Homo sapiens: one gene and its partners. The protein of the gene in region 3 purifies or fractionates together with the protein of the main gene of each other region. This does not show direct contact. Each region holds a gene or a part of one and is shown on either strand. Other genes may lie near its edges.

Evidence for each region.
Region 1: the proteins of NFIX (region 3) and PRR12 purify together in Homo sapiens (affinity purification with mass spectrometry, with the first as the bait; one large-scale study listed by BioGRID). This does not show direct contact.
Region 2: the proteins of NFIX (region 3) and RCC2 purify together in Homo sapiens (affinity purification with mass spectrometry, with the first as the bait; one large-scale study listed by BioGRID). This does not show direct contact.
Region 4: the proteins of NFIX (region 3) and CUX1 purify together in Homo sapiens (affinity purification with mass spectrometry, with the first as the bait; one large-scale study listed by BioGRID). This does not show direct contact.

Annotation. Positions count from the first base shown.
Region 1 is NC_000019.10:49,597,682-49,601,181, forward strand, and holds part of PRR12 (proline-rich protein 12), read left to right. Parts: coding exon 1-332; intron 333-1,590; coding exon 1,591-2,257; intron 2,258-3,500.
Region 2 is NC_000001.11:17,422,678-17,426,177, reverse strand, and holds part of RCC2 (protein RCC2), read left to right. Parts: intron 1-493; coding exon 494-637; intron 638-3,341; coding exon 3,342-3,473; intron 3,474-3,500. UniProt on the Homo sapiens protein: Multifunctional protein that may affect its functions by regulating the activity of small GTPases, such as RAC1 and RALA. Required for normal progress through the cell cycle, both during interphase and during mitosis.
Region 3 is NC_000019.10:13,001,975-13,005,474, reverse strand, and holds part of NFIX (nuclear factor 1 X-type), read right to left. Parts: intron 1-3,500.
Region 4 is NC_000007.14:102,195,126-102,198,625, forward strand, and holds part of CUX1 (Homeobox protein cut-like 1), read left to right. Parts: intron 1-381; coding exon 382-478; intron 479-1,508; coding exon 1,509-2,180; intron 2,181-3,500. UniProt on the Homo sapiens protein: May be involved in intra-Golgi retrograde transport.

The sequences.
Region 1 (3,500 bases), about 37 Mb from region 3:
TCAACCCCCGGCGCTTGCCTGACCTGGTCTCCAGCTGCCGCTCCCGTCCGGCCCTCTCGCCACTGGGGGACATCGACTTCTGCCCACCCAACCCAGGACCCGATGGCCCCCGGCGCCGTGGCCGCAAGCCCACGAAGGCGAAACGTGATGGGCCACCCCGGCCACGGGGGAGGCCCCGGATCCGCCCCCTGGAGGTCCCGACCACTGCGGGGCCCGCCTCGGCCTCCACGCCCACCGATGGCGCCAAGAAACCCCGGGGCCGGGGCCGAGGCCGGGGTCGAAAGGCTGAGGAGGCAGGGGGCACCCGGTTGGAGCCCCTGAAGCCACTTAAGGTGAGGGGAAATGGGGTCTTGTAGGGGATAGGGGAGGAGGAGCTGTGTCCGATGTTTGAGTCTTTTTTTTTTTTTTTTGAGACAGAGTCTCGCTCTGTCGTCCAGGCTGGAGTGCAGTGGCACGATCTCGGTTCACTGCAAGCTCCGCCTCCCGGGTTCACGCCATTCTCCTGCCTCAGCCTCCCGAGTAGCTGGGACTACAGTTGCCCGCCACCACGCCCGGCTAGTTTTTTTGTATTTTTAGTAGAGACGGGGTTTCACCGTATTAGTCAGGATGGTCTCGATCTCCTGGCCTCGTGATCCACCCGCCTCGGCCTCCCAAAGTGCTGGGATTACAGACCTGAGCCACCGCGCCCGGCCTCCCGATGTTTTGAGTCTTAAAGGACAGGTTTATGGCCGCACCTTGGCATTTTTGGGGCAGGGGGATAATAAGGTTTACATTTCTAAAATCTGTGAGGAAGTTAGCGTGAGGAATTTCAGGGTCTCACTGACAGAAAGACCTAAGAATTGAAATTCTGAATCTAGGCTGGGCAGTGTGGTTCATGCCTGTAATCCCAGCGCTTTGGGAGACTGAGGCGGGAGGATCTCTTGAACCCAGATGTTCGAGACCAGCCTGGTCAGCGTAGTGAGACCCTGGTCTCTATTAAAAACACAAAAATTTAGCCAGGTGTGGCTGCGTGTACCTACAGTCCCAGCTACTCAAGAGGTTGAGGTGGGAGGATCTCTTGAGCCCAGGAGTTCAAGGCTGCAGGGAGCTATGATTGCATCACTGTGGCCTGGGCCACAGAGTGAGACCCTGTCTCAAGAGATAAAGGAAATTCTGGGTTTAGGGAGAGAGGCAGGAGGTTGGAGCTTACGCTGGTTTGAAACTCCTGACCTCAAGTGATTTGCCTGCCTCAGTCTCCCAAGGTGCTGGGATTACAGGCACGAGCCACCTCACCCGGTCTGCTTGCTTTTAGTTTCTATATCCCAAAGGATGGGCATTCAGGGATCCTACATTCCTGGGTCTCATGGGAAGCGGGTCTAGGGACCTGAACTGGGCTGTAAGTGAAGAGGCTCAGTGAGTCCAAGTTCCTGGTCTTCTGAGGGAGGAACTCCAGTCTTGTCCTCCTAGAATCTAAGACAAGGGGTCTGCAGGTTTGAATTCTATAAATTCACAGGCTGAGCACCTGTAAATTTGGATTTTTGGGGGCTGAGGGAGGATGGGACTGGGGGCCCAGGCTACTGGGCCCTCACGGCCCGCCACTCCCATGTCTAGATCAAGCTGTCTGTGCCCAAGGCTGGCGAGGGTCTGGGAACCTCATCGGGTGATGCCATATCAGGCACTGACCACAACAGCCTGGACTCGAGCCTGACTCGGGAGAAGATCGAGGCCAAGATTAAGGAGGTGGAGGAGAAGCAGCCGGAGATGAAGTCGGGTTTCATGGCCTCCTTCTTGGACTTCCTCAAGTCAGGCAAGCGCCACCCACCACTCTACCAGGCGGGCCTGACGCCTCCGCTCAGCCCTCCCAAGAGTGTGCCACCCTCTGTGCCAGCCCGAGGCCTGCAGCCCCAGCCCCCTGCCACCCCTGCTGTGCCACATCCCCCACCTTCCGGAGCCTTTGGGCTTGGGGGCGCCCTGGAGGCTGCAGAGAGTGAGGGTCTGGGGCTTGGCTGCCCTTCACCCTGCAAGCGGCTTGATGAGGAGCTGAAGCGGAACCTCGAGACGCTGCCCTCCTTCTCCTCGGATGAGGAAGACTCTGTCGCCAAGAACCGAGACCTGCAGGAGAGCATCTCCTCCGCCATCTCTGCCCTCGATGACCCACCCCTTGCTGGGCCAAAAGACACTTCCACCCCAGATGGGCCGCCCTTGGCCCCCGCGGCTGCAGTTCCAGGGCCACCCCCTCTTCCGGGGCTCCCCAGTGCCAACAGCAATGGCACTCCCGGTGAGCTCTGGGCAGGTGGTCTGGGAGTAGAGCTTAAAGGTTATTATGATCACTAGGTAACAGTTGTGCAGGTTACGCACTGTTTAAGAGACACCATTCACATACATGGTGTAAGCTTGCGTGTTTATGAAGGGACTTTCCTGATTACACAAGCATTTTGAGGAAGGTCTATCTTTTTCTAATTCACTCAGAGGTGCTAAGTGGACTAGGAGGGGCCCCAAGGCAGACACTGGAGAATGCAGGGAGACAGGGCAGGTGATAAGTTACAGGGACAGGACAGGGGCTACTCAGGTTCTGAATGGTGGGAGGTGTGGGAACTGAGGAGGGCTCTGAGTCAACTGTGTGTGAAGGTACAGAAAGATGTCTGGGGGCAGAGAAAGACTTGGGGATGGGGGTGGGCGGTGGAAGGGAAGGCTAGGGGCATAGGAAGGGTTTAGGTTGTGCTCTGGTTTTGGACACAGTTTAAGGAGTGTAATGTCAGAAACAGAGGCATTGGGAAATGAGAGGTGGGAGCTTACAGGAGGGCACAGAGGGGAGTGTTCAAAAAAAAAAAAAAACCATGACAGGCCGGGCATGGTGGACCACACCTGTAATCCTAGCACACTTTGGGAGGCTGAGACAGGAGGATCGCTTGAGCCCAGGAGGTTGAGGCTGCAGTGAGCCATGATTGAGCCACTGTACTCCAGCCTGGGTGACAGAGCAAGACCCTGTCTTAAACAAAAAACCCCAAAAACAAAACAAAAAGACCCTATAACGTTCTTTTTTTTTTTTCTTGAGACAGGGTCTCTCTATGTCACCCAGGCTGGAGTGTGGAGTGCAGTGGTGCGATCTTGGCTCACTGCAACCTCTGCCTTCCGCTCACCGCAACCTCTGCCTTCCAGGTTCAAGTGATTCTCCTGCCTCAGCCTCCCGAGTAGCTGGGACTACAGGCGCGCACCACCATGCCCAGCTAATTTTTGTATTTTTAGTAGAGACGGGGTTTCACCATGTTGGCCAGACTGGTCTCGAACTCCTGACCTCAAGTGATCCACCCACCTCAGCCTCCCAAAGTGCTGGGATTACAGGCATGAGCCACCATGCCTGCCCTCTGTGAGGTTCTTAAAAAGCCTGAAGAAGGGAGCTGGCAGACAGGGGAGAGGTTAGCAGTCTGCATACTGGTGAGCAGGCCAAGGAAAGGACAAAGATGGTCCTGGAGGGAGGAGGATGAGGCCTTGGAGGAAGAGGAGGTGAGGAAGTAGAGTTA
Region 2 (3,500 bases), on a different chromosome or scaffold from region 3:
GGGAAAGGAGGGGCAGGCGGCAGGGAGTGAGGAGGAGGGGTAGGTTACTGTCAGGGTGAGCGGGGTTTCCTGGGTCAGCCTCTTCCTCAGCTGACGGCTGTGGAAAGCCAGCACTCCTGCCTCCTGGACAGACCTCGCACCAGGTCCCGGGCACTTGCGGGTGGGCGTGCTCAATGGCAGAACACGTGGGGCTGAGCCCTGTGAGAGGTGGGACCCAGAGAGGGGGCTGGGGCCGAATGGGTGTAAAGGTGGCAGGTGACGCCAGGCCTGTGCCAGCTTCTGGGTATTTTGATTTTTGGGCCTTCAGAGGCATCGCAGAGATTCGAAGTGAAAACCCGATCCTTGTGCAGCCTCCCAACAGCCAAGGCAGGGTGGCACCCGAGGAACACCTGTCCCTGGTACCCTCGGGAAGTGGCTGCTTGGTGGCCAGTGACATTTTGGAGGTCACCCCACCACCCCAGGTGTCTGATCTGCATTCTCATTCTCTCTGCAGCTGCTTACCGCAATCTCGGTCAGAATTTGTGGGGGCCCCACAGATATGGGTGCCTGGCGGGGGTCCGGGTGCGGACAGTGGTCTCGGGCTCGTGTGCTGCACACAGCCTCCTCATCACCACGGAAGGGAAGCTGTGGAGCTGGGGTGAGTACCGTGCGGGTGCTGGGCACTGGGGACCACTGTCACCAGCTGTCCCCACACAGCACGTTCTTCTGTTTGCCTGGAAAAGAGACTCGCGTCTTATAAGGCTGGGCTCCTTCGTTCACAGCCCATGTCTTTTTTCCTAATTCCCAGCTCGTCTCTTGTCTACACGCTACATGCAGATCCCCTTCCCCCCTGACATTTTTTGCCCATACGCAGCCCCTACTTCTTTGATTCCTTGTGTTTACACAAGGAACATTTTCCTGAATCTTCTGCCCGAAGCTTGATCTTTTCTGATACTGAGGTGTGTGAGTGTGTTAGGCAGGCTGTCCTTCCAGCAGACAGTTTCCTTCCTCTTTGAGGCACGATATGACATGAGACCTCTGTTGCTGCCACTTGAAATGCCACTGGCTTTTCTACCTCCCGCCTCATGTCATAGGATGCTGCGTCCCTGCCGCCATGGCCCTCGTGTCTGAGGTCTGCCCAAGTCTGGTCTGCAGGCTTGGCAGCTCACTGTCCGTGTTGTCTGCTTCTTAGGATATTTCCCCAGATACTTCAGTTTGCTTTTTTGGAGTTGTTCGGCTTTCCCTTCTGTTTTTCCTCACCTGGGCACTCGGGATGGGTTCCAGTTCTTCTGTTAGCCTCTGTCCACGGCACTGTCCTCTGCAGCCGGCCGGCCCATTCCTGCCCGTGTCCTCTTCCAGATCATTCCAATCATAGGGTATGGGCTAAGGCTCATTTTATCCCCAGCCCTTTTGGTGACTCCCGGCCTCTGCCTCCAGCGGGGCATATTGGCGTTTGTCCCCACCCTTTGTCGCTGGTCCTCTGGCTAGCTTTTAGTCCATATGACTGCATTTTTATTTTGGGCTGTTTGAACCGTTTTTTGTGATTTCATGAGCTGCTGTACCAAAGTCCAAATATATTAACATCTGTTGTCTTCCCTGCACATGGCTAATTTTGTAATTCTGTTGAAAAAAGCTAAAGTGTGTCTGGCCCAAATTTATACTTTATAGTCTCTTGATGACATGCTGACATTGCCACAGTTTTTGTTTTCTCCCGGTTGGCATAGATGTGTGTCCCTTCCCCCAGAGCACCCCTCCTACTTTGTGTTCCAACACTGAACACAGCCTTTTATGTCAGTGTTCCAAACTTAAAATACCTCAGTTCTGATCTCTCGCTGAGCTTCACTTGCGTGGTGGCTCTGAAAGCGCCCTCAGTTCTGACCCTGTGGGCAGGGACAATGTATGTCCCGCCATCAAGACGTGTGATCCCCGAGCAGACAGTGCAGTTGGTGAGGACAGGGTTGGAAGGTGTCACAGGCCCACTGCTCGCCACTCTAGAAGGCAGGGGGCGGCGTCTGGTGTGAGTAGAGTACCACGGGAGGGTGGCTGACGCATTGCTCATGTGGGGTCTCCATCTGTGGCCCGCTCACCCTGTCCTGCCGCATCTCAGTCCACTGAGACTTGCACTTGTTGCTCTGTATTCACATGCCTTTCACATGAACTTGGGCAGCTCCCATTGGAAGCTGGTGTATCTGCCTCTCCTGCTCGAGTGCCAGTGCTGGCCCTTCAGCCCGCCGTTCTTTAATTAGAGCGAGTCAGAGGCTGGTTTCCCTTCGTCGCAATTCCTTCTGTAGTCAGAGGCTGCTCCTGCAAGCCTTCTCCAGGACAGCTGGAACTCATCTTAATGGCTCTGCTGTCTGCCTTTATCACAACCTAAGGGTGAAAAGTTCATTGCTGGAGAAGGTTGCAAAACCCCCTAGAATTGCCCTGACTTCTCACCACTGTAAGATCTCCGTCAGTTTCCCCACGTCAGGTTACATGTGTGGTTTTTCTCTTATCGGGAGGGATCCGAGAGTGGCCGGTTGAATTTTTGTTTTGGAACTTGGTAGTTTGTGTTGAAACCTAGATGCGGTGTAGGGGCTCCCAGCCCTCCTTTTGGCCCACCCAACTTCCACGTCTGTTTGGAGTTGAATTTGGTTCTGCAGAGGACTTGGGGGTAGGGGTTGGCCCTCAGGCCTGCCTTCCGCTGGAATTCACAGATACAGGGCCTTGGTCGCACCTGCAGCAGTCCTGGAGGTGGGGCTGGGCGTGTTGTGTTGAGGGTGGATCTGTGCTTTGTCACCAGGGTTCCTGTGGCTGAGAGTCCTTGAGGGGCGATCCCTAGGGGTGGGATTGGCACTGTTATGTGAGCACCATTTACAGGGTAGAAAAAGGAAGAGAAATATTGGGCAGACACCAAATGGTCCTCAGTGGATGCCCAGAGCACCAAAGTGATTAAACTCTGGTGAGCCAGGTGTCAAAATGGGGTGCTGTCTTAAAATACATCTCAGAGGGTAGGGACGGGGTGGTTGTCTTGCAGGCACTCTAAGTGGGAACGGCGTGTTTCTGCGAGCATGCCCGCCTGTGCATGGTGTCCCTACCACACTGAGCCTCTCATTTCCCTTTGTAGCAGAGACGTGGGAGGTGTGCACGGGTGGTCCCGCTGCTGCCCCAGGGAAGGAGGTCCGGGGAGCTGCAGCAGGCGCCATTCCAGCGGGCAGAGGGCCGGGGCGTTCTTTGCTCTGGATCTTGGCTGTTGGGAATTTGGAGGGTACCTTCCAGAGACAGATGGGCATCATTTGAGAGTGTGTTTGTACTCGCCTTCTCCTGGTGGTGCCGCCTGGACCACCCTCTCTCTTTTCTACTTTCTCTCATGTGATCTGCAGGTCGAAATGAGAAGGGGCAGCTGGGACATGGTGACACCAAGAGAGTAGAAGCCCCTAGACTCATCGAGGGTCTTAGCCACGAAGTGATTGTGTCTGCAGCATGTGGGCGGAACCACACCTTGGCCTTGACGGGTAAGGAGGTGGCTGCTGGTGTCTCCT
Region 3 (3,500 bases):
GAGGTTAAGCAACTTGCCTGAAGTTACACAGCTAGTGAGTGGCAGAGCCAGGAGTCAAACCCAGGAAGCTGGCTCTGCAGGCCCCACTCTCCTAATAACAGTACCTGCTGAACACAGGATTCAAGAAGACAAGCTGGGAAGGCACTTAGCAAGGGTGCAACGCAGCAAGCACACAGTTCACATTAGCTGTTGCTACGATTTTTAGGACAAACATTTATTTTGCTATTATCCTATCTTCTTCTACCATTCTGCTGACCGCTGTCTCTTCTTTCTCTGGGGTCAGAACTGGGGAGTCAAAGGCCAAAGGATTAGTGAGACAGCCCCACGGAGGACAGGAGTCTCAGAACTTAGCTTTGTTGGCCAGGCACAGTGGCTCACGCCTGTAATCCCAGCACTTTGGGAGGCCGAGGCGGGCGGATCACTTGAGGCCAGGAGTTTGAGACCAGTCTGGCCAACATGGAGAAACCCTGTCTCTACTAAAAATACAAAAATTAGCCAGGTGTGATAGTGCACATCTGTAATCCCAGCTACTCGGGAGGCTGAGGCATGAGAATTGCTTGAGCCTGGGAGGCCAAGGTTGCAGTGAGCTGAGATTGCACCACTACACTCTAGCCTGGGCAACAGAGTGAGACTGTTTAAAAAAAAAAAAAAAAAGAACCTAGCTTTGTCCCCATCCCTTCTCTCGGTGGCTGCCAGGAGCAAGGAGGTGAGGGTGGAGCCCTCGACCACGGAGTCTAGAAGACTGCGAGTGTCCTGGGCAGGGATGGGCATGTGGTTTTTCCAGGCTTTGTCTCACCCCAGGCTTCTACAAACCAGGGCAGGGATTTGGGGCTCCCAATTCTATCCTGAGAAGCTGGGGTGGCTGTAGCTGCTGCGCAAAGACAGCTGGTTGTGGCTGACAAGCAGAGGGGAGGTGCCACCAGGGCAGGTCTCAGCTCTCAGGCACCATTTCCAACCACTGCCAGGTGTGGCCCAGGTGCGAATATGTGTGGGGGTGTGGCTCTCGTCCCTGTGTGCTGGGGTAACACTGGACTGTGTACATGGCACGCCGACTGTGCCTGGGTTTGGCAGGGGAAATGGGGTATATATGCGACAATGCCTGGGTCCTAGTGAGGGAGAGTGTGTGTGTGTGACACTGTCAGCTGGCGTCTTGTTTGGGTGTGACTGTGTATGTGGGTGCATGTGTAATGAGTGTCAAGGGTTAGCTGTGCCTGTGTGTGTTACTGTGTATCTGGGGATGCATGGCAGGGTTTCCAACCTTGGCACTACTGACATTTGGGGCTGGATCATTCTTTGTGGTCGGCGAGGGTTGAGGGGTTCCATTGTAGGGGACTGAGCAGCATCCTGGGTCTCCACTCACTAAATAGCACCCCCTCCACAAGTGTGACAACCAAAAATGATTCCAGGTTGGGCATGGTGGCTCATGGCTCCCAGCACCTTGGGAGGCCGAGGCGGGAGGATCACCTGAGCCCAGGAATTCAAAACCAGCCTGGGCAACAAAGCCAGACTTCATCTTTACTAAAAATTTAAAAATTAGCTGGGTATGGTGGTGCTCGGCTGTAGTCCCAGCTACTTGGGAGGGTGAAGCGGGAGAACTGCTTGAGCCCAGGAATTCAAGACCAGCCTGGGCAACATAACCAGACTCTGTCTCTACAAAAAAATTTAAAAATTAGCCAGGTGTGGTGGCATGCACCTGTATTCCCTGCTACTCAGGAGGCTGAGATGGGTAGATCGTTTGAGCTTGGGAGGTCAGGGCTGCAGTGAGCCGAGATCGCACCACTGTGCTCCAGCCTGGGCTACAGATGACAGTCTGTCTCTAAAAAAAAAAAATGTTTCCAGACATTTCCCAATGGGTGAAATCACTCCTGGTGGGTGACACTGGGTTAGGGAGTGTGTGGGGTGTTTTGTGTGTCTGAGAGCGTGTTATTGCATGCATGTGCATGTACCTGTGTGCTTGGTGGCATGTGCGGGTGTATCGGTGCTCATGTGTGTGTTTTGGGCACTGACATTATGACTGAGTGTGTGTGCTGTGTGTTTCTAGCTGTGCCTGTGGGGCTGCATTTGACGGTGGCAGAGCCTGTGTCTGTGCTGTGTGCTTCATGGCATGTGATCGTGTGACTGCGCGTGTCCCGTGTGTCTGCACCCACATGCACGTCCCTGAGTGTGTAATGCCGCATCGATGTGTTCGGGTGTGGCCGGGTGCCTCAAGGTGTCTGTGAGTGAGGGCAAGATTCTTTGTATGGGGACGCCTGTGTCTGTTTGATTGAGGGAGGTGCAGCATGCCAGTGTGTGTCAGCGTGATTCTTTGTGCCCGCATGTGCCAGTGAGAGTGTGTGACTTTGTGTGAGATGGACCCGGAATAAACCCCCCCCCAACTCCCCAAGATGATTCGACCGAAGCCGATATTTGGACGGAACCACCTGGATAATTTGGAACCCATCCCTAGCTCCTGCCTGCCTTGGACTAAAAGGCCCAGGGGGGTCGGGTGCACCTCCATGCTGTCCTTTCCTCCAGCTTGGCTCACACAGATTCAGGTGGGGACAGACAGATCCCCGCTCTTGCCCGATCTGTGCCAGGAAGGCTGGCACTGAGCTTCAGCTGAGGGGGCAGGGTCCTTGGCGATGGTGGTGGGCACTGCCCCCTGCCCACTGCTGGCCACCACCCCCGGCTCCCCTCAGGGTGGGGCCCAGTGGGGGGAGAGCTCCCCAGTGCAACCCCGGCTTCCGATTGGCTGCAGAGCGCCGCAGTGCCCGCTACCCGCCTCCCCTCCCTGGCTGGCGCAGCCACATCGGTAGTGGTGGCAAACGCAACTTGGAGTTCTGGGCACAGCTGCGCCTCACAGAGGCCTGCCAGCCCCACCAGAAGCCAGACACCCCAGCTCCGTGCCCCCGACCCCTCCCTGCCCGCCCGCCCCGCCGGGCAGCTCAGTCACCCTGCCCATTGCCTCCCTCTGGCTGCCAGGCCCTGTCCACCCTGTTCCCTCACCCGCCAGGCCTGTGCCCCCCTGGCCAAGCCCACTCAGGGGGCCCAGGCCCCTGCACGAGGCCACTCCCGCCCTCAGAGGGGCTCCTCGGGAGGGGGGAGGTGGTGAGGAAGGGGGGGTTGGGGAGCTAGCCCTTCTTCCTTTAGTGAACGCGCCCAGAGCTGGAGCCAAAAATCGAGGAGGAGAGATATTCAGACGGAGCCAAGACGCGTTTGGCAGGAGGAGAGAGAGAGGGAGAGAGGGAGCGGGAGGAGGGGAGGAGGGGAGGAGAGAGGGAGGAAAGAGAGAGAGAGAAAGGGGGAAAGAAGGGGGGACCTCAGTTTCCAAATCCGCGCCCTCAGAGCCTCGGAGGGATGGCGGGTGGCCCAGGGGTGTGGGGCCCAGGGCCTGCCTGGCTGTGGGGGCAGCGGGGATAGTGGGCTCAGGCCCACGGAGACAGCCGGACACCCAGCTGGCCAGGCTAGAACGGACACAGGCAGAAGCCAAGATCAATGTGCGCCGGGCAGACAGAGGGAGG
Region 4 (3,500 bases), on a different chromosome or scaffold from region 3:
AAAAAAAGAAAAGTTCCCTTTACAGTAACGTTCGGACAGACGTTTGTGGCTTGGCAGCCAGTCTTATGGCCAAATGAGGCACGGGCTCAGGTCGCTTGAGTTTGAGAACAGATGAGAGAATAATTAATTTTTTTAGGAGCTGTGGAAGTCTAAGAAGGAAAATGACTTCAACTAGAATCCATTCTTTCTAAAGGGAACTTGTTTTCCACGTGTGTTAAACGACTTGGGGGGAAATCAGCTGTCCGCAGCCCACTTCCTAATCAGATCGAGAGCTGGGTGGGAACGCGGACAGATGGAGGGAGGCAGGGCTCCAGGCCTGGTGGCCCCGGGAGCGGGTGAGTGGCCGGCCCCGCAGTGAGACCCCCGCTCTGCCCCTTCTAGGATGCGGCCAAGCCCCTGGAGGTGCTGTTGCTGGAGAAGAACCGCTCGCTGCAGTCCGAGAACGCCGCGCTGCGCATCTCCAACAGCGACCTGAGCGGTAGGTTGGCCGGGCTTCGCGCGTGTGCGGTGGTTGGTTCGCTTCCAGGGGTCGGTCGAGGACGAGGAAGGTGAATCGTGAGTCTGGACAGATGCATGGCCAGAGAAGCGCCGGTTGACGAGAACCTTTGACTAACGCGTGTTGGGTGCCCTCCTCCTCACCGCTCCTCCCTTCCCTTCCCCGCCCTGCTTAAAGCTGGATGTCGAGACGGGCCAGCCGCACAGGCTCTGCGGAGGTCAGTTAGGGGCAGTGCGGCTGGAATCCCCGGGAGGGACAGCTCGGAGGACGTCGGCCTTTCTGATCTGTGTCTGGTTGTGCTGCACAGAGGCCAGGGGCAGTGTGAACCCAGCCTCGCTCTGGTGGTGTTTTCAGGGACAGCCCCGGGCCTGCCGGGTCCAGTAGAGGTTTTTCTTCCTTGGTCAGGTTTCCCCTGGGGACGCGTCCCCCATCCTTAGCCTTTCTTGGCTCATCCCCCAAATGGTGGCGTCACTTGACTGTGCTTCTGGTTTGGGCAGCTGGTAAAACGCGTACAGGTGTCTCGGGCTCTAATGGTATTGCATTCTCAAAACGGGCGCGCGCCTCCACATCGAGGGGGCTCGGTACGGTGCATCGCCTCAGAGCAAGAGGTGCGAGCGAATCCATTGGTCCTAAAATGTCAGTGTTTGCTGCTCCTCCGGCCGGGGCCAGCGGGCCCAGTAAGAGGCCCGCGACCCGTCAACTCTTCCCTGTGTGTGTCACCAGCTCCTTGTCACGCTAGGAGTTTGAGTCTATGTCAAGGGGACTCTCCAGGCTGCAACGTACAAGAAAGGCGCAAACATGAATGCATGTTGCTTGTTTTGGGAAGCCTCGTTTGGCTGACTTACAAATTTAATCGGAAAACAAACCAACCCACCTCATTGGCCCTTGTAAAAAAAACCTGCACTTTTTTTTGTTTTCCCTTTTGCGGGGGCAAACTTTTGCATTTTGGTCTTGGTTTTTTTTTCCCCCTTTGGAATCCCCCATAATGCATTCTGTTTGCCCTTCCTTGTAGGGTCAGCCAGGAGGAAAGGGAAAGACCAGCCTGAAAGTCGGCGCCCGGGATCTTTGCCGGCCCCCCCTCCTTCTCAGTTGCCCCGCAACCCGGGGGAGCAGGCTTCCAATACTAATGGTACACACCAGTTCTCACCAGCGGGGTTAAGTCAAGACTTTTTCAGCTCATCCCTGGCAAGCCCCAGCCTACCCCTGGCTTCTACAGGAAAATTTGCACTAAACTCTCTTCTCCAGCGGCAGCTAATGCAGTCCTTCTACTCCAAGGCTATGCAGGAAGCCGGAAGCACAAGCATGATTTTTTCAACAGGTCCATACAGCACAAACTCCATATCTTCCCAAAGTCCATTACAACAAAGCCCAGATGTCAATGGCATGGCCCCATCCCCCAGCCAGTCAGAAAGTGCTGGGAGCGTCTCCGAGGGCGAGGAGATGGACACTGCAGAAATCGCCCGGCAGGTCAAAGAGCAGCTGATTAAGCACAATATCGGACAACGTATTTTCGGACATTATGTGTTGGGACTGTCTCAAGGGTCCGTGAGCGAGATTCTGGCCCGGCCCAAGCCATGGAATAAACTGACTGTTCGTGGCAAGGAGCCATTTCACAAGATGAAACAGTTCCTCTCCGATGAGCAGAACATCCTGGCCCTCCGTAGCATCCAAGGCAGACAAAGAGGTGAGAGACTGGCGTTGGGTGGCGCCAGCGTGCGAGCCCGTCACAGAGTTGCACATGTGTGTGTGCATGCGTGCGTGTGTCTGTGTGCGTGATGAAACATTTGTGCATCACATCAGGTAAAGTTCTCTTTGCTTCTGCCACGTCCAGAGCTCAAGGGTGGCCCGGCATGAGTTAAGGCTGTTAGATTTGGGAGATCTGGCCTTTGAAACGCACTCAGCACTCCATACTTAGGAAACCCTATAGTATTTCAATACTAGAGATCGTATCAGAGGGAATTGCATTACATGATGTATAGCGTCTCCGTATGCTTAGTGGCCGCGGGTCCAATTGGCCTTGGGTGCTGGTCTCACTTTTGGGAGGAGCCCTTAAGTCCCCTCCAGCCCCATAGCAGCAACGTTGACTGGGCTCGATCCTCATGCAAAGCTGGTTCTGTAGGGAGAACACATCACAGATGACACCTCCCCTCTTCCCACCCCGCAGAAGAGGGCGTGTCCCATGGCCACCTTCCCTACATTGTTCACGGTCCATTAGTGATTTGTTTAGCATTATGAGTAAAACAGGCCTGGCTTGAGTAAAATACACAAAAGTTTTATTTAAGCACCCTTTCTACCCCACCCTCCGTAAAAAGATAAAATGTCAGTCACATTCATAATTTCAAAAAATCCCAGCCGGGCACAGTAGCTCACGCCTATAATTCCAGCAGTTTGGGAGGCTGAGGTGGATGGATCGCTTGAGTCCAGGAGTTCAAGACCAGCCTGGGCAACATATATTTTGTAATCTTTTGATCTACAAAAAAATCAAAAGGTTAGCTGGGCGTGGTGGCGTGTACCTGTGGTCCCAGCTACTTGAGAGGCTAAGGCAGGAGGATGGCTTGAGCCCAGGAGGTGGAGGCTGCAGTGAGCCATGATTGAGCCACTGCACTCCAGTCTGGGCAACAGAGTGAGAACCTGCCTCAAATAAAAAAACAAAAAAGAAAGTTCCTTTTCTGTTTAAGACCAGGGGATCAATGTGCCACATCAACAGAGCTATTGAGAGGTCATTTCATCAGACATGTTTGAAACACCCTGAAATTTAGACTCAAACAGAGCAGGGAGATGTTTTGAACAGCATCAATTTGCACCAAGAAAATGCAGTGTTTTATGAGGATGTTAACCGAAATTGAATGTCTTTGGATGATTAATGCGAGCTTTGTTCTGGGGGCTGGCGGGTGATCCTCCTTCAAGGCAGTCCTCCCTCCCATGGACCTCCCTGGCCTCAATGCCGTAGGTCGCTACTTAGATTTCCCCCATCTCCTTTTGCAGCAGAGCCACGGCCTCTGCG